Linked DNA regions of Homo sapiens: regions 1 and 2 are each linked to region 3. The links come from fine-mapping of genetic effects on gene expression. A gene starts in region 3. Each other region holds a variant in brackets. All regions are shown on one strand. Distances are from middle to middle.

What was found. PIP is the estimated chance that this variant, and not a neighbour inherited with it, causes the effect. A credible set is the group of variants that fine-mapping cannot tell apart.
Region 1: its variant is the best candidate, but not a certain one, in a credible set for the expression of MYO9B in lymphoblastoid cells (GTEx, PIP 0.55).
Region 2: its variant is the best candidate, but not a certain one, in a credible set for the expression of MYO9B in whole blood (INTERVAL, PIP 0.58).

What each region holds. Positions count from the first base shown.
Region 1 is chr19:17,103,589-17,111,763 of GRCh38, reverse strand. The region is part of intron 2 of MYO9B (myosin IXB); the gene reads right to left. Among named protein-coding and RNA genes, the nearest start is that of SNORA118, 15 kb to the right of the region's middle. RefSeq lists enhancers at 858-1,359, 1,323-1,432, 3,465-3,514, 7,576-7,625. The variant T/GT (reference allele first, on the strand shown) is at 4,710.
Region 2 is chr19:17,191,853-17,200,027 of GRCh38, reverse strand. It overlaps MYO9B (myosin IXB), which reads right to left. Exons shown (of 40, transcript NM_004145.4): 21 at 6,966-7,282; 22 at 4,555-5,472; 23 at 2,170-2,236; 24 at 1,720-1,844. Among named protein-coding and RNA genes, the nearest start is that of USE1, 19 kb to the left of the region's middle. The variant A/C (reference allele first, on the strand shown) is at 5,056.
Region 3 is chr19:17,071,185-17,079,358 of GRCh38, reverse strand. MYO9B (myosin IXB) reads right to left here and starts at 3,582. Exons shown (of 40, transcript NM_004145.4): 1 at 3,485-3,582. HAUS8 (HAUS augmin like complex subunit 8) reads left to right here and starts at 3,907. Exons shown (of 11, transcript NM_033417.2): 1 at 3,907-3,965; 2 at 6,024-6,085. The coding sequence starts at 3,937. RefSeq lists silencers at 3,146-3,440, 3,435-3,784 and an enhancer at 3,965-4,164.

The DNA.
Region 1 (8,175 bases), 32 kb before region 3:
ACGGGGTCTCCTTTCAGGGGGATGGAAATGTTCTGGAACTGCATAGAGGCGACGGTTGCATACCACTGCGAGTGTACTAAATGCCACTGAATTGCACACTTTTGCCTGAGGCCAGGAGTTGGAGACCAGCCTTGGTGACATAACAAAACCCTGTCTCTACAAAAAATAAAAAAATTAGCCAGGGGTGGTGGTGTGCACCTGTATTCTCAGCTGCTTGAGAGGCTGAGGTGGGAGGATCACTTGAGGCCAGGAATTTGAGGCTGCAGATATAATTTAATTTACAGATTTATAAACTGCAGATATAATTTATACATTTATAAAATGCAGATACAATTTAATCTATATATTTATAAACTGTAGATATAAATATAAGGTATCTATTTATAAATAAGTAAATAGGTAAATTATATCTCCATAAGCTCTTAAACAGGAACCTCAACTTCAGAGGCATGAGAGTTGACACACACCTGGTTCCAGAAACTTCTATCTCTGCCACCCTTGCTGAGCAGCTCGTGTGCCTCAGTTTCCTCACATGTCAGGTGGGGGTGGTCAGTCTGCCCACATCAGGATGTGGTGAGGACGTATGAGATGACGCCCCCAATGCTGGGTGGAGGCTGGCATCCAACTGTGTCTTGCCCGACAGACTCAGGGGGAAAGGACGTGGCCCAGGCAGGTGTCCTTGAGGGCAGAGGTCGAAGTGGATAATGGCACTGTGGTCTAGGTGACCTACCCCAGTGCTGACTGTGGGTGGGGGAACAGAGCTAGTGGCCTGGCTGATGGCAGAGGGGCTGGGGGAGTTGGGGGAAACATGAGACTGGGTTTGTAGGGCCCCTAAGGAGGAGCTCAGGACCCGGTCCAGGTGGGTACGAGTCCTAGGTTCCTTTGCCCCAAGAGGGGGGTCTGGGGCAGTGGCACGTTCAGGACCCTTCCTCAGTCCCTCACTGGAATGTCCTGGGCATCGGCACAACTTCGGGTGAGCTTGGCTCCACCAGCTGGGGGCGTCCCTCTGCGCCCTGCAGCCCATCACTGTCACCGTGTCCCACTGTGGGCCGGGCCACAGGGGCTCCATGGAGTCCAGGGACCCTTGGGACAACAGCCTGACAAGCAAGGATCCTTATTTTATTTCTGCTTTCAGAATGAAAACCCCATGCACGCTGCCAGCTGCCAGCTGCACTTGCTACAGTTCAGGACAGATGAAGGGAACCCCAGCCTTTGGCCCCCTGGACTCAGCCTGCTCTCAGAAGGGCACCGAGGCGAGTGCCTGGTGGATCTGAGGCTGTGGGCAAAGGGAGAGGAGCGTGTTCTGGGTGTGCTTTGCGGCGAGACCCCATGGCCGATGCTGTAAGGTGCTCTATCCACAGCCCCTGGGCTGTCGACGGGCGCCTGCACTGGGAGGCTAGAGGCCATGTGGAAGATGGGGAGACTCATGGCTTCTGCAGCCCCTAGACTTGGTGAAAGGTGATGGCAACAGTTAACTGCAGTGGCGGGCAGATCAGCTGATTGGAACCGGCTTTCCACAGTGCTCCCTTCCTGTTTTTTGGTCAGCATTACACAGCGAGGCTGCAACCCTCGCGGGGGGCGGGGGTCAGGGGGTGCATCCAGCGACACTCAAACCTCAAAACAGCTCAACTTCTCCTTTCGGGGAGCTGAGAAAAAATCCCCAATCGATGCAGCGAGTTGTGCTGATCTCCGGCTTTCTGCAGCCCGGGCGAGAGAGGGGAGAGCAGAGAGGCAGCCTGAACGGGGGGCTGGGGCTCAGGCCGGGTTCAAACCCCGGGTTAGGCTTTGGCTCTCTGCGGTGTGGCCTGGGGAATCTACCTGCAGTGGGTTGACTTGTGGCTTCCCAAAAAAGACATGTCTAAGTCCTTACCCCCAGAACCTGTGACTGTGGCTTTATCTGGAAACGGGGTCTTGGCAGATGTCATGAAGGTAAGTATTTTGAGATGAGGTGATCCCATGAGAGAAAGGCAAGGGAGATTGGACACACACAGGGGAGAAGACCAGGTGACGACGGAGGGAGAGGGCAGAGTGATGCGGCCACAAGCCCAGAGCTCCAAGGATGGCTGAAGCCACCAGAACCCGGGAGAGAGGCCTGGGACAGATTCTCCCTCAGAGCCTCCAGAGGGACCCAGCCCTGCCCACACCTTGATTTTCAACTTCTGGCCTCCAGAACTGTGAGAGAATCAACCCCTGCTGTTTGAGGGCTCCCAGCCCGTAATACTTTGTTATAGACACCTCAGGAAACTCACACATCCACGTGTCTCTCTGGGGCTCAGTTTCCTCATCTTTAAAATGGGCAGAGCTGCCGTGAGGGATTAGAGATGATGGAGGAAAATCACGAAGCCCAAACCCTGATACCCAGTGGGCCTGAGGTCTTATTCCTCTTATTAGAAAATGATGGCCGGGCGCAGTGGCTCATGCTTGTAATCCCAGCACTTTGGGAGGCTGAGGTGGGCGGACCACGAGGTCAGGAGATCGAGACCATTCTGGCTAACACGGTGAAACCCCATCTCTACTAAAAATACAAAAAATTAGCTGGGTGTGGTGGTGAGCACCTGTAGTCCCAGCTACTCAGGAGGCTGAGGCAGGAGAATGGCACGAACCCGGGAGGCAGAACTTGCAGTGAGCCGAGATCGCGCCACTGCACTCCAGCCCGGAGACAGAGAGAAACTCTGTTTCAAAATAAATAAATAAATAAATAAATAAATAAATAAATAAATAAATAAATAAAATTAAAAAAAAGATTCTTGGGGCCAGGCATGGTGGCTCACGCCTATAATCCCAGCACTTTGGGAGGCTGAGGAGGGCAGATTACTTGAGGTCAGGAGTTTGAGACCAGCCTGGCCACTATGGTGAAACCCGTCTCTACTAAAAATACAAACATTAGCCGGGCACGGTGGTGGGCGCCTGTAGTCCCAGCTACTCGGGAGGGCTGAGGCAGGAGAATCAAACCCAGGAGGCAGAGGTTCCAGTGAGCCGAGATCGTGCCACTGCACTCCAGCCTGGGCGATAGAGCAAGACTCTATCTCAAAAAAAGAAAAAAAGAAAATGACTCTTAAGTTAGCACAGAACAGAAAGAACTCACAGATAATTTCTAAAAGCTCAGTGGCTGCAATGAACAGTGATTGGGTCTTATGGGAAGAACTCAAAGACAGCTGTTCTATTCCCAGGGGGTGATTTGTCCCCAGGGGACAACGGGAAGCTATTTTGTTAATACCTCTCTAATCAATGAAATGTCTGGGGACACTTCTGGGTGTCACACCTGCGGGGTGGGGAGTGCTCCTGGCATCTGGTGGGTGGAGGCCAGGGATGCTGCTCAATGTCCTTCAATGCACAGGATGACTCCCTCCCCAGAGAACGATCCGGCCCTGAATGTCAGCAGAGCCAGGTTGAGAAATCCAGCTCTCAGTGAAGACAATCACATCCCTTTGCAAACAGTCGCCCCAGGAAGCACGTTTATTGCCATGACGTGGATTTGGCTCAAGCCTGTTTTGGAAGCCGGCGTGGGCACCACCCTCGAGCGGCTTAGAACCGCTGGAGAAAACTGGCCTCGCCAGCCCCCGCTGCTGAGGCCCCAAGCAGGTTGGCCTGGCAGGACCGGGGGTCTGACTCACAGAGGGTGACTAATGGCTGTTGAAGGCATACTGGAGACTGTGCAGGCGTGGAGGCTGGAGGGAGCTTTGCTGGCATCCGGGGAGGAACTACCGGTCCCCAGGACAATCGCGGATCTGGGGCAGCCCTCAAGGACCCAGGCACAAGATGTCACCAAGTGGGACTTGCCAGGGGCCAGGTAGGACTTGAAGCAGACCAGGTGGGGCTGTATGGGGGATGCTGTGGGCTGACTTGAGCCCCCCGCCCCCAAAATTATATCCACATCCTCACCCCCAGAAACTGTGTATGTGACCTTATTTGGAAATAGGGTCTTTGCAAATGCAATTAGGTAGGATGAGGTCATGCCGGGGTAGGATGGGCCCTACATCCCATGAGTGGTGTCCTTGTTATAAGAAAGCCACGTGAAGACATGGACACACAGGAAGAACGCCCCTGACGACAGAGGCAGAGACTGATGTGACGTGGCCACAGGCCAGGGCACATCTGCAGCCACCAGAGAAGCTGAAGAGGCCTGAAGCATCCTCCCCCAGAGCCGGGAGGGAGTGCGGCCCCGTGGACACCTTGATTTCAGACTTCTGGCCTCCAGGACCATGAGAGCCTTAATCCCTGTTGTTGGAGACTCCCTTGCCCCTAACACTTAGCAACAGGAAACTTGTCCACGCCCTGGAGGGTCCTAGTGAGATGGCGCTGTGGAGGCAGCAACGTGGTGGGGAGGACATGGACCCTGAACTGAGACCTAGGTGGCAATCCTGCCTCCTGGCCGTGCCACTTTGAGACCCTGGGGCTGGGCGTGTCATTTCTGCGGGGCTCAGGCATTTACCCACCTGCCTAGTCCCATTTGGCAAAATGTCTGACATGGTAAATGTTGGATCTACCCTCTCATTCATTCACCTACTAAATTTTTTTTGTTATTTTTTTGAGACAGGGTCTTGCTCTGTCACCCAGGCTGGAGTGCAGTGTGTGATCACAGCTCACTGCAGTCTTGAACTTCTGGGCTCAAGCAATCCTCCCACTTCAAGCTCCTGAGAGCTGAGACCACAGGCATGCACTGCCATGCCTGGCTAATTTTTTATTTTTATTTTTAATTTTGAGACAGA[T/GT]TTCGCTCTTGTTGCCCAGGCTGGAGTGCAATGGTGCGATATTGGCTCACTGCAACCTCCACCTCCCAAGTTCAAGCCATTCTCCTGCCTCAGCCTCCGAAGTACCTGGGATTATAGGCGCTCGCCACCACACCTGGCTAATTTTTGTATTTTTAGTAGAGACGGGGTTTCACCATGTTTGCCAGGCTGGTCTCGAACTCTTGACCTCAGGTGATCCACCTGCCTTGGCCTCCCAAAGTGTTGGGATTACAGGCATGAGCCACTGCACCCAGCCTAGTTTTTAAACTTTTTGGTAGAGATGGGGTCTTGCAATGTTACCCAGGCTGGTCTGGAATTCCTAGGCTCACGCAATCCTCCTGACTCAGGACTCAGCCTCCTGACTCTGGGATTACAGGTGTGTGCCACACATGCTGAATTTTCAAGATCACTGTTTTATCTCGGGTGTGGATGCCAGGCACTGATGTTTTGGCCTGGAGAGCCGTTGAGCCCCCTGGCCACCTGCTGGGAGGACACTGGGGCCACTGGCAGTTTCACTGTGGCTGAGTCTCAGAGCTGGGATGACGCCAGGGCGGCCTCGGGAGACCAGAGCTGGGTTGCATCTACCTCTGCTCAGAACCTCTATAGCTCCTGTGTCACCCAGAGTCTTCCCCGAGTTCTACCTGGGGAGAATTTTGTGTTGACTTTGGCCACCACATAGCCCAGCACCTATATCATAGCCTGCCACACAGCAAATGCTCACACAGCAATGAACGGGCGGTCTGGGTATATAATGTAATGCACACAAGACAAGCCATATTAAAAACAGCTGAGGTGGGAGGATCACTGGAAGCCAGGAGTTCGAGACCAGCCTGGAGAACATAGTAAGACTGTGTCTCTACAGAAAATTTAAAAATTAGCCGGGCATGGTGGTGCACACCTGGAATTCCAGCTACTTGGGTGGGAGGATCGCTTGAGCCCAGAAGTTCTCGAGGCTGCGGTGAGTTATGATTGTGCCACTGCACTCCATTCTAGGTAACGGAGAGAGACCCTGACAAGAAAGGAATAGAGGAGAGGCGAGGAGAGGGGAGGGGAGAGGAGGGGAGGGGAGGGGATGGGAAAGGAAAGAAAATGGACATTCTATGGTGAAATTGCTCAGCAGTTTTATTAAAAGCTGATGTAAACAATGACAATGAATCTCTGTGTTACTTGCACAGGAGAAAACAGGAATAGGCTACATATGTCGGACCAGGGCTAAGTTGTATGACCCCAATTAATGTCTTACTGATGACCTCAGAGAGGAAGAGGAACTGAAATGTATTCCTAGGCACTGCTTAGATGTGATTTCAGTGAATTTGCATGGCAGCCCTCAGCTTGTGGGGACTAACAAGAGGCGAGAGGTCAAGGCTCCAGAAAGGGTGGGGTCTGACCCTGCCCCCAACTCCCTCTCTCCACTGAGGGGGCTCTCAGGATCCTACGTGTGAAGAAACTGACACATTCATATAATGAGCTACAATTCAGCAAAAGAAATGAGCTCTCAAGCCACGAAAAGACATGGAGGAATCTCCTCTCCCCTTTTTTTGGGGGACAGGGTCTCGCTCTGTCACCTAGGCTGGAGTGCAGTGGCCAGACGTTGGCTCACTGCAGCCTCAACCTCCCGGGCTCAAGCGATTCTCCTGCCTCAGACTCCCACGTAGGGGGGACCACAGGCAAACACCACCACACCTGGCTAATTTTTTTTTTTTTTTTTTTTTTTTTTGGTAGAGACAGGGTCTTGTTATGTTGCCCAGGCTGATCTGGAACTCCTGGGCTCAAGTGATCCTCCTGCCTCGGCCTCCCAGTGCACTGGGATTATGTAAGCCACCGTGCCCAACTGACATGCAGGAACCTTAAATGCTGGTTGTGAAGTGGAAGAAGCCAGTCTGAAAAGCCTGCAACACTGGGACTCCAACTACAGACAGCCTGGAAAAGACAGAACTGTGGAGGCAGTGAGAAGAGCTGTGGCTGCCAAAGGTCATGGAGGGATGAACAGGGGGAGCATGGAGGAATTTTAGGGCAGTGACACCACTCTGTGACACTCCAACGGCAGACACATTCATTATACTTTTGTCCAAACTCAAAGAATGTGCAACACCAAGAACCCTAATGGAAACTATGGCTGTTAGTAACAGTACCAACGTAGAGTTGAGTCAGGTGCAACCAACACACCACACGAATGCAAAATATAAATAATGTGAGAACCTGGGCGTGGGAGGGGTACATGGGAACTCTCTGCACTATCTGCTCGGTATTTTTATAAACCTAAAACTGCTCTAAAACAACCAATCTGTTTTTTTGTTTTTTTTTTAAGCGGAGCTGGGTACAGTGGTTCACGCCTATAATCCCAGCATTTTGGGAGGCCAAGGTGGGAGGATCATTGGCATCCAGGAGTTCGAGACCAGCCTGGGGAATACAGTGAGACCCCCATCTCTACAAAAAATAAAATAAAAATGAAAAAAAGGCAGATCCCACACCCAGAGGTGCAGACCCCTGAGGCCACACGCTGCCCCTGGCCCTCACCAGGTGGCGATGGTTGCGTTGTTCTGAGACATGTGGATGCACCTTGTCCTACAATCCCTGCAATGATGGGTGCTGTGTGGTCACCTCTGTAGCCCTGTGGCCACAAGACTCACCCACAGTGGCACATCGAGGGCTCCTGTGGGGTTTGGCTGATCAGGGCAATGAACAGTGGGCAGAGGGCATGAGGCATAAGAGCCTGGGTTGGTCCCTTCTCTGCTGCCTCTACAGTGAAACTAGGCAGCCCCCTCCCCGACAATGCTTCGCCATCCCCTTAACCCCCAGGCCTGCCGTACGCCTTGCTGGCTTCCTTCCACCCTGCTGGTCCCCCTAGAAATGTCCCGTTGTGAAGCACTCCTCAAACTGGTTTGAATACACCAGCCTTTTCTTTCAGGCACCTTGAGAATGAATGGCCATGTTCTGGAAGCCAAATGTGTATTAACTGTGACTATTTTTTTTTTTTTTTTGAGATGGAGTTTCGCTCTGTCACCCAGGCTGGAGTGCAGTGAAGCGATCTTGGCTCACTGCAACCTCCACCTACCGGGTTCAAGCGATTCTCCTGCCTCAGCCTCCCGAGTAGCTGGGATTACAGGCACACACCATCATGCCTGGCTAATTTTTATATTTTTAGTAGAAACGAGGTTTCATCATGTTGGCCAGGCTGGTCTCAAAGTCCTGACCTCCCGTGATCCACCTGCCTCAGCCTCCCAAAGTGTTGGGATTACAGGTGTGAGCCACCGCGCCCAGTGACTTATTTTCTGTATTTCTGATGCTCTGACATCTGGGGCCTGGCTGACCCCAGGGAGACGGCCCTTCCCAATTCCTAGATTGATTCTAGCCAGTTCCTAGAGATGGTTTGGGACTTGCCTTCCATATGCAAACCAACCAGTCCAGAGCCTACACCCCAGCCACCTCCTCTCTGGGACTCTCACAC
Region 2 (8,175 bases), 120 kb before region 3:
TGATGGTGGGTTCCTGTAGTCCCAGCTACTTGGGAGGTTGAGGCAGGAGAATTGCTTGAACCCAGGAGGTGGAGGTTGCAGGTTGCAGTGAGCTGAGATCGCACCATTGCACTCCAGCCTGGGTGACAGAGTGAGACTCTGTCTCAAAAAAAAAAACAAAAAACAAAAACAAAAATGGATCTGGCTGGGTATGGTGGCTCACGCCTATGTAATCTCAGCACTTTGGCAGGCTGAGGTGGGTGGATCAGCTGAGCCCAGGAGTTTGAGACCAGGCTGGGCAACATAGCGAAACCCCTTCTGTACCAAAAATACAAAAAAAAAAAAAAAGAAAAAAAAAGAAAAAAAAATTAGCTGGGCATGGTGGTGCACACCTGTACTCCCAGCTACTTGGGAGGCTGAGGCAGGAGAATCGCTTGAGCCTGAGAGGTGGAGGCTGCAGTGAGCGGAGATTGAGCCATTGCACTCCAGACTGCCAGACTGGGCAACAGAGCAAGATTCTGTCTCAAAAAAAAAACAAACAAAAAAACAACACAGGATTATCTTATAAAGAGCAATAGCCCTTTCTTTGTACTGGCAGGGGAGTTATGTGAAGAAAGAAGGATACCAAACAGAAGCCACAGGGGGACTCCATTTTCTTTTCTTTTTGTTCCAGTTGGGGTGTGACTCAGTCTGGAGTGCAGTGGTGTGATCATAGCTCGCTACAGCCTCAAACTCCTGGCCTCACGAGCATGATCCTCTCACCTCAGCCTCCTGAGTTGTTGGGATTATAGGTACAAGCCATGCGCCTAGCTCATTATCTTTTTAAGTTAAAAAAAAAGTTTTTTTGAGACAGAGTGTCATTCTCTTGCCCAGGCTGGAGTGCAGTGGTATGATCACAGTTCACTGCAGGCTTGATCTCTTGGCCTCAAGGGATCCTCCTGTTTCAGCCTCCTGAGTAGCTGGGACTACAGGCATGCACCGCCCTGCCTGGCTAATTTTTGAAATTTTTTTGCAGAGACAAGATTTTGCCACGCTGCCCAGGCTGATCTTGAACTCCTGGCTTCAAGTGATCATCCCACCTTGGCCTCCCAAAGTGTTGAGATTACAGGCGTGACCTACTGCATCCATTCAGCCACGTGTCCTTTTAAGGGACAGAAGACAGAAGACACAGACACTGAGGGGAAGGCCAAGTGCCGATAGAGACAGAGATTAGAGTGATGGAGCCACAAGCCAAGGAACACCTGGAGCCCCCAAAAGCCAGAAGAGGCAGGAAGGATCCTGCCCTAGAGGCTTTTTTTTTTTTTTTTTTTTTTTGAGACGGAGTCTCCCTCTGTCACCCAGGCTGGAGTGCAGTGGCATGATCTCAGCTCACTGCAACCTCCACCTCCCGAGTTCAAGCGATTCTCCTGCCTCAGCCTCCCGAGTGGCTGGGATTATAGGTGCCTGCCATCATGCCCAACTAATTTTTGTATTTTTAGTAGAGATGGGGTTTCACCATGTTGGCCTGGTTGGTCTCCAACTCCTGACCTCAAGTGATCCACCCGTCTCGGCATCCCAAAGTGCTGGGATTATAGGCGTGAGCCACTGCCTGGCCTCCCCATTCAGTTTCTACTGAGCAAATGCCTTTGCGAACGTGCTTTGTAAACGTGATTGGTTTAGGAGGCCACACTGCTGCGAGGCCCTGGCAGGGACCCCGGGCATCCTCTGGTGGCCTGAGTTTCCCCCAAGCCCAATACTTACTTAGAGTCGACCTGAGAGCCCGGGGACAGCCCTGCGTCTGGGAGGGAGGATGCGTCGCCTGGCTTCTTCTTCTGGACAGCTGGCTTTTTCGCACTTCGCTCTCCGTCCGTGGTTTCTGCTGCAGGCTGCAAGACGGTGCAGTGGGGGGCTGCTAAGGAAAGGCTGGCAGTCCTGTGCTAGATGGGGAAGCCCCTGCAGGCATTTACACTCCATCCACCGACCTCACTTCCTGCTTTTTTTTTTTTTGAAACGGAGTCTCACTCTAGTTGCCCAGGCTGGAGTGCAGTGGCCTGGTCTCGCGAGGCTCACTACAACCTCTACCCTGCCACTGCGTTCAAGCGATTCTCTCGCCTCAGCCTCCTGAGTAGCTGGGGTTACAGGCAAGCGCCACCACGCCTGGCTGATTTTTGTATTTTTAGTGGAGACGGGGTTTTGCCGTGTTGTTGTTACCTGAGCCTTGGCCAGGGACGGGAGGAGCTTGGAGACGTCGCTCGTGGAGAAGGAGGTGCGCCTCTCCCTGCGAGATCACAGAAACATGGCTTTTACTGACTAGAGTGAGTCAGTGGCATTTTCTTGTCTTAGTGGTTCTTGGGTTCTCACTTGGGCAGTTCTGCCCCTGCCAGGGGACACTTGGCAATGTCTAGAGACAGTTTTGGTTGTCACCACTTGGGTGGGGGGAAAGGAGTGGGTGGGTACTTCTGGCCTCTGGTGAGTGGAGGGCAGGGATGCTACTCAATACCCTACAGAGAATGGTCTCCACCCCAGAGAGTGAGCCAGCCCCAGATGTTGAGTGTGGAGGGTAGGAAACCTTGCCTTAGCCCAAGAGACCCTGCCTGCCTGCCCATCTATCTATCTATGTATCTATCTATCTATCTATCTATCTATCTATCTATCTATCTATCATCTATCTATCCATCCATCCATCCTTCTACTCATTGACTCATTGTCTCTATCTTCCACCCATCCATCCTCTTTATCTGCCTTCCATCCATCTCTTCATCTGTCATCTCTATCTATCTTTTTTTTTTTTTTAGACGGAGTTTTGCTCTTGTTGCCCAGGCTGGAGTGCAATGGTGTGATCTCGGCTCACTGCAACCTCTGCCTCCCAGGTTCAAGTGATTCTCCTGCCTCAGCCTCCCGAGTAGCTGGGATTAGAGGCATGCGCCAACACATCCAGCTAATTTTTGGTATTTTTAGTAGAGACGGGGTTTCGCCACGTTGGCCAGGATGGTCTCAAACTCCTGACCTCAGGTGATCCACCCGCCTCAGCCTCTCAAAGTGTTGGGATTATAGGTGTGAGCCCCCGAACCCGGCTCTACCTATCTTCTACCCATCCGTCCCTCCATCATCTCTATCTTCCTCCCATCCATAATCTACCTATCATCTATCCATCCCTCCATCCATCAACTCTATGTTCCTTCCATCTCTCCATCTCTATCTTCCAGCCATCCACCCATCCTTCTGTCTGTCCATCCATCCATCCATCCACCCACCCAGCCATCCATCATCTCTACCTATCTTCCATCCCTCCATTCATTGTCTCTACCTACCTATCTTCCTTCCATCCATCTATCGTCGGCATCTATCTTCCTTCTATCCATAATCTCTACTTTTTTTTTTTTTTTGAGACGGAGTCTCATCTCTGTCATCCAGGCTGGAGTGCAGTGACTTGATCTCGGCTCACTGCAACCTCTGCCTCCCAGGTTCAAGCGATTCTCCTGTCTCAGCCTCCCAAGTAGCTGGGATTACAAGCATGCGCCACCACGCCCAGCTAATTTTTGTATTTTTAGTAGAGACAGGGTTTCACTATGTTGGCCAGGCTGGTCTCGAACTCCTCTCAAACTCTTGGCCTCCCAAAATGCTGGGATTACAGGCATGAGCCATCGCGCCCAGCCTAATTTCTACCCATCTTCTATCCATCCATCTCCCCATCATCTGTATCATCCATCCATCCATGCCTCTATCCATCATTACTACCTGTCTTCTATCTATCCATCCCTTCATCCATCATGTGTATCTTCCATCCATCCATCATCTATATCTGTCTTCCATTCATCACCTCTATCATTTTCCATCCATCCATCCCTCCATCATCTCTATCTTCCTTCCATCCATCCTTCCATCATCTCTATCTTCCATCCATCCACCCACCCACCCACCCACCCACACATCCTTCCCTCTCTCTCTCTCTCCCTCCCTCCCTCCATCCATCATCTATCGATAATACTCCTGGCATGTGGTAAGTGGAGGCCAGGGATGCTGCTCAACATCTTATGATACACAGGACAGCCCCCACCGCAGAGAATGATCTGGCCCCCAATACGAGCAGTGGGAGGCTGAGCAGGCCTGCTGCAGGGAAGGCCTGTCTCCTCCCTGATTTCTTTCCTTTGGTCCTGCAGGCCCTCTGGAAGAGGGAGCTGGAGATTCCAAGTCACTGACACTTGGCTTACTAAGGCTCAGGCAGAGCAAGCCCCTGCTCCTTTAACCCCGAGGAGTGCAGTTAGTCCTGTTCACCAATTAGAAACCAAGGCCCAAGATTTCTGGGCAGCAGGGACCTTGACCTGAGGAGCCACCTCTCTCAAGGCCGGGGCCTTTCTGTGTGAGCACAGCTCCTTCTGGGGACCCCTCAAGGCTCCAGGTCCCAGCCTGGGCCCTGGCTGGCTGCCTTGTCTTCACTTGGTCTTTAGCATGTCCTGCTCGTCCTCCTCCCTCAGGCCTCCCGCACACCCACTGGGCATGATTACACATGTGTTTCCAGGATGTGTGGCACTGCCCCTGGCCTTGCCCACCTGGCCTGGACCCTGGTGCTCAGACAAAAGAGGGTGTGGGGCTTACTCTGTGGGCGTGAGGGCGGCCCCTGTGGCCCGGTGTCTGTCGCTGAGGTCCAGGGACTGGCTGAGCATGGCACTAGGGCTGGCGGCGGCCACCAGCTTCTTGCCCCGCCACAGTTCCACGGCGCTGGCCAGCCGCTCGGCGTCCAGGTACCGCTGGATCTGCGTGGAGCCTCCGGGGCTGTCGGGCTTTTCCTGAACCCTTGGGCTGCCACATGGTTTGCTCTTGTCCTCGGGGGTCTCGGGGGCGCTGCCAGGGGCCGGTGGGCTGACCCTGCTGTCCAGGGCCAGGCTGGTCGGCCGCTCCAACTGGCCAGGCCTGGGGCTCCCACTGGGCAGCGTCTTCTCAGTTTCTTCAGAGACCTTGCCAACTGCCATGGCCTGGGGTTGCTCTGTGGGCTGCTTTTGAGATGTGTTCTCAGCCTCCGTCTCTACGACTAGAAGGGTTTCATCTTCTCTGCTCTCCTTTTTGTCTTCCAGGAGACTCACCCCTTGCTCCTGGGTG[A/C]CCCTTCTGGAAGGTTCTCTGAGGGCACTCTCCTCCTTGCAGGACTGGATGTGTTTGTTCTGGAACTTGACGTGCTCCAGCCCTCTTTGCCGACGCGACTCACGCTTCTCCCGGCTGCTGGGGACTTTCTCGTGACTTTCAGCCGCCACGGTTTTCTGGGGTGGGAGAGTCTTCTCTGGGCTTGGGGCCTCCTTCTCAGGTGAGGAGTGCTCTAGGGGGGACCTGTCACTTGGCTGCACCTCAGGCTCCGATGCCAGGTGCCCGCCATCCTCCGCTGGCTCCGGCCCCTGCTCAGCTACCTGCTGCCCTCCAGCCGCCTGACCCTGTCCGCCCTCCTCAGCACCTGCTCTTGCGGCTTCCAGGGCTTCCCTCTCCTTCTCTTCTGCCTTCTGCTTCTCCGAGATCATCTGGCTGAAGCTGGAGTGAGGAAAAAGCAGACAGCTGGTTCAGAAACAAACACTCCCTCCACCTCCCACTGAGTTCCGATGGGACCCCCAGCCTGCGGGCTGCAGACGGGGCTTCGCCTGTGCCCAGTGGCCCTGAGAGATGCTTCTGGAAAGCAGGAATCTCCTCGATCAGGAAAGGAGGCTGAGGGTGGTGCCCCCTCAGTGTCACAGATACCCCTGCCCTGCGTCTGCCTGGCTGCCTTGTTAGGGGAGAGGACCCTTGTTGGGGCTGTGGTGGGTGGGTTCTATTAAGAAGCCTCAAACTCCTTTGGGGTCCACTGTGGGCTTTCCCTTGGGTCTTTTTCTAGGAGGCTTTTTGTTTTGCTTTTATTTTATTTTATTTTATTTTATTTTTGAGACAGAGTCTCGCTCTGTTGTCCAGGCTGGAATGCAGTGGCACGATCTTGGCTTGCTGCGACCTCTGCCTCCCGGGTTCAAGTGATTCTTGTGTCTCAGCCTCCCTAGTAACTGAGATTATAGACATGCACCACCAAGCCCGGCAAATTTTTGTATTTTTCGTAAGATGGGGTTTTGCCATGTTGGCTAGGCTGGTCTCCAACTCCTGGCCTCATGTGATCTGCCTGCCTTGGCCTCCCAAAGTGCTGGCCTTACAGGTGTGAGCCACTATGCCCAGCCTGTTTTGCTTTTAGAGACAGTGTCTGGCTCTGTCACTTAGGCTGGAGTGCAGTGGTGTGATCATAGCTCACTGCAGCCTCGACATCCCAGGCCCAGGTGATCCTCCCACCTCAGCTTCCTGAATAGCTGGGACTACAGGTGTGTACCACCACACCTGGCTAAGTCTTTAATTTTGTGTAGAGATGGCATCTTGCTATATTGGCCAGGCTGGTCTTGAACTCCTGTGCTCAAGCGATCTTCCCATCTAGGCCTCCCAAAGTGTTGGGATTACAGGCATGAGCCATTGCACCTGGCCTAGGAGGCTTTTGCATGTGTGGGTAGGGCCTGCTCCGGGAGCTGGGACCTGACTTGTGGCAGAGCTGGGTCTGTGTGGGCAGGGGAGAGGTGAACAGGGTGCCTAGGTCGGGGAGGGGCTGGGCTCGGAGCTGTGGGTGCTGGGACGGGAGCTGCTGATATCCTCCTGGGGGCTTCTCTGTGCCCGGTGGATGCCCCAGCTCCATGTGAGTGTTGGGCTGGTCCAGGCAGCCCCTCCAACCCTGAATCCAGGTGTTCCCTGACCGATCCAGGTACAGGGGAGTCCCTGGGCAGAGAATGGGTGCAGCCAATGGCAAAGCAGGGCTTTGTCCCTGAGTGCTGCCTGCCAGCCTTGGAGCACTTCTCTGCAGCCCATGAGTGCCTAGGCATCTGGTTTCCCACCAGCCTTTCCCTGTGTCCAGAATGACATCCCCTTAGTGCCACAGGCCAGATGGTATATCACGGGCAGCAATTTGGTGAGTGACCTTTTTGGCTTCTGGAATATTCCGAGGAGCGTGGCCCGGCTCTGCTCACCTCTTGCGCTGCAGGTGCCCCCGACACAGGCTCTGCAGGCGGATGATGCTCTGTTTCTGGTGCCGGTAGAGCTTCCGCTGCCAGTAGCCCCTCCATGAGGCCTGGAGGTACACGGCAGCCTGCGTCCTCTCCAGCGCCCTCCGGACCCGGTAGGACCGCCAGCAGGCCTGGATGGTGACGGCGGCCCGCTTCATCTGCAGGAAGTGCCGACGCTCCAGCACCATCCGGAACCAGCTCTGCAGCAGCAGGATTTTCCGCACCACCTCCCGGTGCAGCGTCTCCTGCAGGGCTTGCCGCTCCGTCTCCTTCAGGAAGACCTGGTGGGCACGGGGTCAGGTGGGGTCAGCTGCACTGCCCCTGACACCATCTCTGTGCCTGGGAGGTCTGCATAGCCCACTCCAGAGTGAGACCTAGGCTGGTGTGCTGACCAACCAGGGCTTTATTTATTTATTTATTTATTATTTTTTTGAGATGGAGTCTCACTCTGTCGCCCAGGCTGGAGTGCAGTGGCATGATCTCGGCTCACTGCAACCTCCGCCTACTGGGTTGAAGTGATTCTCCTGCCTCAGCCTCCCGAGTAGCTGGGACTACAGGTGCCCATCACCAGGCCTGGCTAATTTTTGTATTTTTAGTACAGACAGGGTTTCACCATGTTGGCCAGGCTGGTCTCGAACTCCCAACCTCAAGTGATCTGCCCGCCTTGGCCTCCCAAAAATGCTGGGATTACAGGCATGAGCCACTGCACCTGGCTGTGGCCCCCCCTTTTTTTTTTTTTTTTTGAGATGGAGTCTCACCAGGCTGGAGTGCAGTGGCCCGATCTCAGCTCACTGCAACCTCCGCCTCCCGGTTTCAAGCGATTCTTCTGCCTAAGCCTCCCGAGTAGCTGGGACTACAGGTGTGTGCCTGTAATAAAACCCTGTCTCTACTAAAAATACAAAAATTAGTCAGGTGTGGTGGCGGGCACCTGTAATCCCAGCTGCTTGGAGGCTGAGGCAGGAGAACCAGTTGAACCTGGGAGACGGAGGTTGCAGTGAGCTGAGATCACACCACCTGTCTGGGCAACAGAGCAAGACTCTGTCTCAAAAATAAAAACAAAAAAGAAAAAAGAAATGAGATCTCGCTCGGTCACCCAGGCTGAAGTGCAGTGGTGCAATCAGGGCTCACTGCAGTCTCAAACTCCTGCCTCAGCCTGCCAAGCAGTTGAGACCAC
Region 3 (8,174 bases):
CCCACAGTCCGTTCCTAACGGTTCCTCCTTTTTATCAAGACCCGCTCCCTCCTGATTAAGAACTGACTGGATGGCAGGATTCAGTTCCTGGTCTCTGCCCCTGTTCCCACTCTTAGTGGCAGTTCCTCAGGGGCTCCACAAACACCAAGGACCCACCAAGGCAATGATGGGCCCTAGAGGGGAACCAGGTTTTACTAATGAGCATCACATTTCACCTGGCGGGGGAGGTGATTCTGCCCCCAGGGGACACGTGGCCATGGCTGGAGTCATTTTCAGTTGTTACCCCTTGGAGGGGATGGAATACTACTGGCATCTCATGGGTGACAGCCAGGGACACTATTCCACATTCTACAGTGCACAGCCCCAACTGTCAATGGTGATGCGGGTGAGAAACGGCCCTGGAGATTTGGGTTTCCCCAGTTAAAGGTTACTAAGGATCCTGCATGTTTCTAGAAAGCTCAAGGAACCATCTCTGAAGTCATCACCTGCCTGGGCCTGTTTCTGTATCAGGAAGATAAGAACAAGGACCCTCGCACTGCCGGTTGGCAGAATGAGAGAGCTGGGATGCCCTGTACAGGCCGGGCTTCAAAGGTATCTGCTTGTGCAATCCCTTCCACCCGGAGTGGTTTAACACGTGGTATCTTTCCAGGTTTGACCTGGGGCCAGCCACTACTTCCGAGGAAACTTGCTGGAATCCCCCTTGTCCTAAAGCTTGCATTGGTTGTCCCTAATTCTCCCCCCATAATATCTTGTGGCCCCTCTGTCACCGTACTGATGACCTGATCTGAATTCCATTCTTTTTTTTAATTATTATTATTTTTGAGGGCATCTTGCTCTGTCACCCAGACTGGAGTGCAATGGCGCAATCTTGGCTGGCTGCAAACTCCGCCTCCTGGGTTCAAGCAATTCTCCTGTCTCAGCCTCCAGAGTAGCTGGGACTACAGGCGCACATCACCACGCCGGGCTAATTTTTGTATTTTTAGTGGAGACAGGGTTTCTCCATATTGGTCAGGCTGGTCTTGAACTCCTGACCTTGTGATCCACCCACCTTGGCCTCCCAAAGGGATTACAGGCCTGAGCCACCGCGGCCCAGCTTGAACTCCATTCTTTCTGAAGAGGAAGTGCAAAGTTGTCGGGGGCGGGCATTAGCGTGTCCGTCCTCTGGGTCATAAGGATTCACCTCTGTCCCCAGGAATCTACCAAGTGTCTGGCACAATCAACCCTTGCCTAACTGAAATCTAGGCCCACCCAAGACACACCATTTGGAAGAGATGAGGAATGGGAAGCAGCAAGTTAACAAGTCCATGTGGGGAGAGAATAACGAATCCTACAGCCAAACAGAAAGGGGAGATTCCCACGTCTCTACCTGCTCCACTGAGTCACCAGACTGGACCCGAGGGACGGTACTGCCTCGGGATTTCCAGAAATTTGCAGTTTCCAAAGCTTTGGGAATAGGTGCAATGTGCAAAAGCACCTTCAACACCGCAATTTTCTATTTGGACGATGAAGAAGCGGTTGAAAAAAAATCATTTTTGGATACAAACTGTCGAATGGAAAACGGAATAAAAGTAGGATCATCGCAGCCAGGAATGGAGAGTGGGGGTGCTGTGAGGAGTTCAAGGCCGGGAGCTGGGGGACATGGACTGGAGACAAGACGGTGATGAGAAGAGTTGGGTTTCAAGGTTGAAAAACGCTGATGGAGGTCAATTCATTCATTTTGCAGGTGAGAGGTCAGAAACAGGCACAGAGACTTGACCAAAGCCAGGATCTCCAACACAGTGCTCCCCCCACAAGACCCTGCTTGGCCATTCTCTAGCGGCAGGGAAGAGGCGATTGCAGGGCTGCGGGATCAGAAGATCCCGGTCCTGTTCTGTAGGCCAGTGCAAGCCTACAGTTCAATGTTTGCAGGAGGCATGACTGTGGGCTGTCACTGCATGTCCTGGGGCAAGCCAGGCCAAAGCCACCTTTCCTAAAGGCCAGGATATTCTGGAAGTGAAGGGGGTGCTTATCTTTCTGTGGCCCTCTTTATATTCCAGCTATCCGGGTTCATCTCCTGAATGAGCTATAAACTAAACATAAGCTGGGGTTCCCCAGCCCTTCTGGCAGATCCCAGATAAAGATCCCTACAGTTGGGAAAGGGGAGAAATGAATGCCAATCAAAAGCACCCTGCACAAAGTCCCTGCCAGGGCCACAAGAGCCAGGCCTGTCAGATGTGAATAACTTTCCTGTAGCCCAGGTCACCTCCGGCTGCTCCTGGACACCTTAAGATTCTGAAGACTCCAACATCAAAAAACAAACCGAGTTGGGACTCTCTGGCTGGAAAGTGTCCCCACGGGCTCCCACCTCAGACAAAGAGGCAGAGAAGCCATCCCTTAAAGACCCCTGGCCTCCAGGGTGCCCAGGAAAGAAAGGAGGGCTCGTGGCTGTCGTGCCTCTCCAGGGCTGAGCTCAGAGCAACCGGGGGACAGATTTCCTGTATGTCGTTTTACCCATTTAAGTCCAAGGATGCAGCTCTGCGGAGGTGGCGACAGTCCTGTACATGAGGGTGCATGCACACTCCCTCCTGAAACACAGTTCCGGCCCCACAACCGGCCCTGAGGTCCCTTCCTTGGATCCAGGGAATCCCAGAATCCTGCTAGTCCTGTCTTAAGGGGAGGGTGGTGAAGTTTCCAAGACGAGGACACTGGCACAGAGGGTGTTGGGACTCGTCCCAGGTCACCCAGCTGTTAAGTGTGAAGTCAGGAGGGACACGAATCAAGAGGGGAGGGTGGGGGGACGGAATCTCCAGGGGCTGCATCTCAACATCTATCTGCACGGGGCCACTCTAACCCCTTCCTTCTCTTCCCTCCTCTCCGGGCCCTCCCTCCCTAAGCCTACCCTCAGTTCTTACCGTGACTTCTACTCCGTTTACTTCCCTTCCAGCTCCCATTTCCCCGCTTCCCAATAGCCGGCTGCCGCATCAGTTAGTTCAGAACCCCCCGCATTTACTGAGCGCCCACTGGGGGCCAGGCGCCGCCCTCTTCTCAGACACCCTTCCTTCAATCGCGCGGGCAGACGTCCCCAGATCGGTCTCGCACCCCTTCCCCTCAACCGCACCCCGGCTGTCCCGCCCCTGGCCTTGCCCACTCCCCCAGCCTGGGCCTCTCGTTCCCGCCTCCGTGCCTCCCCACAACGCCGTTTCCTGCGACCCCCCAATTACCACTTAAGCCACGTCCTCTTCAGAGAAGCTGCTCAAAGCCACAAGACTCACCCCCCCCACGCCCTCGAACTCCCTCACCAGCTCCATCCCCATCCACTTTCTCCTTCACCGTCTCGCTTCCACCTCATCCCCAGCAATCTCTCCAAGACCCCCAGGCTCGTTCCCGCCCCCTCGACCCCTGCCGTCGCGTCCCCCATCAGCCCTCAGCTCCGTCCCTCTTCTGCGCAGCCCCCAAAGGCAGGCTTCGAGCTCGAGTCGCCAACCCGAGGCTGCCTGGTACTCACCTGGCCTCGGCCGCCGCGCGCCGCCGGTCCCGGGCCGGGTCCCCGGCCGGACGACCGCCTGCCAGCCCGCCGCTGCTCGAGCCGCTCCGCCCCGCCGCGCCCGCCGCTCCCCCGCGCGCTCCCGCTTCCGGGTTCCGGAGAGGCGGGGACGGGGGCGTGACGCCAGCGCTCCTAGGGGCGGGGCATCGCGAAAAGCCCCGCCCCTACTGTCCGACAGATCAGGTCCCACCCACCGCCCCTACCCACTACCGCCGATGGTGGGCGAGACCAAGTGCGAGGGGAGGACAGGCGAAGCGCGCGTCTGGGGCCGCGCTCTCCACACTTAGCCGGCGCTGCCTCACGCCTCGCAGCCACCCCTCCTGCGTCTCCACAAATGGTCCGACCCGCAAGCAAGGGGGCGGGTCCGGCTTTGAAAAGCCGGCGGGTCGGGCCTTGAGGTGGAAGGCGGGAAAATGGCGGATTCCTCGGGGCGAGGCGCTGGGTGAGTTGGGGCTTCCGCAGGTCTGGATTTGTAGACGCCATAGGGCTGGAGAGGATGGGCAGCGGAGGTGGGGAGTTAGGACCCTCGGGGTGAGTTCGGGTTCGACCCCGCCAGGAACTGCGCGGGCCCCTGAAGACCCCGATGGCGTGCTGCCTCTGCGCATGCTCCGGAGCGCTGACACCCGACCGGCCCTGAGTTCCGCGTCCTCGGCTGGGACGCTGGGCGACCTCCGGCAAGCGGCCTGACCGCCCAGTGCCTCGCTTTCCTCCGCTACGAAATGGGGCCGATGACGCAGCTCAACCTCGTAGGCGTCGCGTGAGGCTGAAACGCGCTTAGATCGGCGCCTGGGTCTTTACTGTGATGTCGCTCTTGGAATTATCGTTATGCAGTGAACAAGTGTTGGGCGACCAAAGTGTCCCCTTTAATCCTCCCACGCGCTTTATTCTGTGCTCCCAGTTTACTGAGGAGATGATGGAGACCCAGGGAGGGGAAGTGACTTGCCTAGGGTAACACACCATGAACAAGAAAGAAGTTGAATACTGACCGAGAGCTAGGCATGAATGATCATGAGGCTATATTTGTCTAGTTTTGTTAATTCTGCCAGTGTTGATTGTGCCAGGTGCAAACTGAAGTGAAATTGGCCAGCAAGAGGAATCACTCCACCGCCCCTTGCCGTAACCGATAGATTGACAGTAGCACCTCCCAGGTACAGGTGCAGTAGCTGAGGCTCGCACAGGTTGTAGGGACCCCCCTCAGGTCGCAGCAGGTTCACCCAGGAGCCCATTCGGTTTGAGGCCACAGCCCTAGCACAGTCCCCAGAGGGAGTCTGTGCTCTTGTCTCTTTCTGGCTGTGAGACTGCCCCGGGGGTGACCTATGTAAAACCTGTGCGTCTTTGTTTTGCAGCGACGAAAAAGCAGGTGTGAACAGTTAGGAAGCTGTCGGGTTAGGAGGAGCCTACGGGCGAGCGCAGCTGCTGGCACCTGGCGAACATTTGCTAAGTTGCCTCTCCCCACGGTGGCCTGGAAGTGTCCCCAACATTGTCTGGGTCTCACTTTGGGGTCCTGGGAGCCTGCTTCAGAGGAGGTGGCCGCAGGGACCAGTGGAGCCGCCTTTGGTGATGGGAGCAGGAGTTACAGTGCCCTGGCCTTGGCCCTGCCCCTCCACTTGCCCATCCACTTGCCCCTCCTGTGTTGCTGGTGTCTGTTCTTGGATCCCTTCTTTTCTCACCAGCTCAGGCTGAAACCCTGAAACCCCTAGTCATCCCAGATTCTCCCTCTCCTGCACCCCCACAGCTGATGAGTCAGCGATTCCTATCTCAGGGTCCCTTCTTTCCTATTACATCAGGCTTCATTCTATTTTTATTTTTATTTTTATTTTTATTTATTTATTTATTGAGACGGAGTCTCACTGTCACCCTGGCTGGAGTGCAATGGCGTGATCTTGGCTCACTGCAACCTGTGCCTCCCGGGTTCAAGCAGTTCTCCTGTGTCAGTCTCCTGAGTAGGAGGGACTACAGGCGCATGCCACCACCCCAGCTCATTTTTGTATTTTTAGTAGAGATGGGGTTTCACCATGTTAGCCAGGATGGTCTCGATCTCCTGACCTCGTGATCCGCCAGCCTCAGCCTCCCAAAGTGAGGTACCTGCTGGGACCACTCCTCGTACCTGCCTGTCAAGATGTTGTTCTTCCCTTTCTGGGAAGGAGCTCTGTGTTTTGTTACCACTGTGTCTCTACTGGAATATAGTAGGTGCATCAATGTCTGGTGAATGAATGAACCCAGGGATAATTTGAGATCTGCTGTGATCTCTTCCACAGAGCTCTCATTACCCTCCTCTCTTCTCAGTTTGGGTGTTCACCTATGCCTTCTTGCCCAGGTGACCAGGGCTGGCTGCTCCTTGTGTCCCTTTTCCTGTTGAGGTGGCCCACCCTCACTGAAATTGTCCTCTGGCAGCCCTTGGACTGGGCTGTCTGAGCTTCAACTAGCAGAGGCACCTCGCCGGCTTCCCTGTGCTTCTTGGGTAGTGAGGTGAACAAGACCTCTCTCTCTTCTCTTGCAGGAAGCCTGCAACCGGCCCCACAAATTCTAGCAGTGCCAAGAAGAAGGATAAAAGAGTTCAAGGTAAGCAGTGTCAGGATCTCTTTAAGGAACATGGTTTTCTTCTTTCATTACGTGCTTTTGGAGGAAGAAAAAAACAGGCCAGAGAAGGGGGCCTGTGGCTTTACTTCCTTGTAGTCACACCTGTGGGGATTCTGGGTCTGGCCATCCCAGCCCTGTGGCGAGGGCTGTGTCAGGAATGGTGGTGGTCATTTTGAGCAGTGGCTTCCCTTGGCAGCCATGGGGGTCATGGGCTGTGTCCGGGACATGTCCCCTGGAAGCGTGGGTGTGGAGACCATGGAGATCATTATCAAAAATCAAACTCTGCCTTTTTTTTTTTTTTTTTTTGAGTTGGGGTCTCACTATGTTACCCAGGCTGGTCTCGAACTCCTAACCTCAAGTGATCCTCCCGCCTCTGCCTCCCAAAGTGTTGGGATTACAGGCATTAACCACTGCCCCCGGCCTAAAATCAAACTCTCAATTCCCACTGCGTGAGCGTGTCAGTCTCATGAGGGGTGCCTGTACATCTGATTTCCACCTATCGGTCTGGGATCACCGTTAACGGCCTCCCCCACGAGCCAAGATCGCACCACTGCACTCCAGCCTGGGCGACAGAGTGAGACTCTGTCTCAAAACAAAACAAAAAAAAAGGAAATGTGGCTGGACACGGTGGCTCACGCCTGTAATCCCAGCAGTTTGAGGCGCCAAGGTGGGTGGATCATGAGGTCAAGAGTTCAAGACCTGCCTGACCAACATGGTGAAACCTCGTTCTACTAAAAATACAAAAATTAGCCGGCCATGGTGGTAGGTGCCTGTAATCCCAGCTACTCAGGAGGCTGAGGCTGGAGAATGGCTTGAACCTGGGAAGTGGAGGTTGCTGTGAGCCGAGATCGCGCCACTGTACTCCAACCTGGGTGGCGAGCGAAACTCCATCTCAAAAAAAAAAAAAAAAAAAAAAAGGAAATGCTCGGCTTGCATGGTAGATTCTAGAGTCCATCATTGGAGGCCAAGACTATGATACAATGAGGTATTTTCTCAGTGTGTGCAGTGTCGCAGGGCCCAATTCAGCGAGCTTAGAGCAGGATTTTATTTCCAAGTGAGGCAAGGTTTGTATGTTTCAGCATTGCTGGGTAAGTTGTCTTTTTATTTCCTGACCACTTATTCCCAAATTCTAAACATCGCATGTTAATCTCGCATATAACAGCTATAATATTTATGAGCTACCTCGTTCTTGGACAAGAATTGTATCCTTCTTCATAATATTGCTTCTGTGGAAAATTCAGCCTGTTTATTTATTTGTATTTATTTTTTTGAGATGGAGTCTCGCTCTGTCACCCAGGCTGGAATGCAGTGGCGTGATCTCGGCTCACTGTAGCTCCCGCCTCCCAGGTTCAAGCGATTCTCTGCCTCAGCCTCCCAAGTAGCTGGGAGCTGCCACCATCCTGGCTCATTTTTGTATTTTTAGTAGAGACAGGGTTTCACCATGTTGGCCAGGCTGGTCTCAAACTTCTGACCTCAAGTGATCCGTCCACCTCGGCCTCCCAAAGTGCTGGGATTACAGGTGTGAGCCACCGCACCTAGCCAGGCTGTTTAAAATAAACAGTTGTATCCTAGTTTTCAGGAAACTTGAAAGTGCTTTTGTTTCCCCACCGTCCAAGGCAGCCCAAGCCTGAGATCCTCCTTGTTGAGCAAAACTGTTTCCTGATGCTACTAGAAAGACCCGGGCTGGATGGTCTTTCTGCTGGGAGCTGGGGATGTCCTTTCTCTCAGCTGTTCGATCACCATCCAGGGTAGACTCTTTTTGTGGCCTGGTTGTCCCTGGGACCCCACCTGGTCCTGGCCTCAGCCCTTGGAGACCTGCACCATGAGAGTGGCCTTCCGATTGTCCACATCTGCCGGGCACCCACCTGCACCCACACTCGCTCTGCAGGCATGGTGCATTCCTACCCTGGGGCTGCCCAGATTGACAGCCCGGCCCTTTGGCTGACTGAAGGATCCTTGTTAACTCTGAGGGTACCTCCTTTCCTCTCAGGGTAGCAGCTGCAACCCCAGTCCCCAACAGAAGAATCAACTGGAACAAAGATATGGTCAAAGTCACAATCTCACTTGGCTG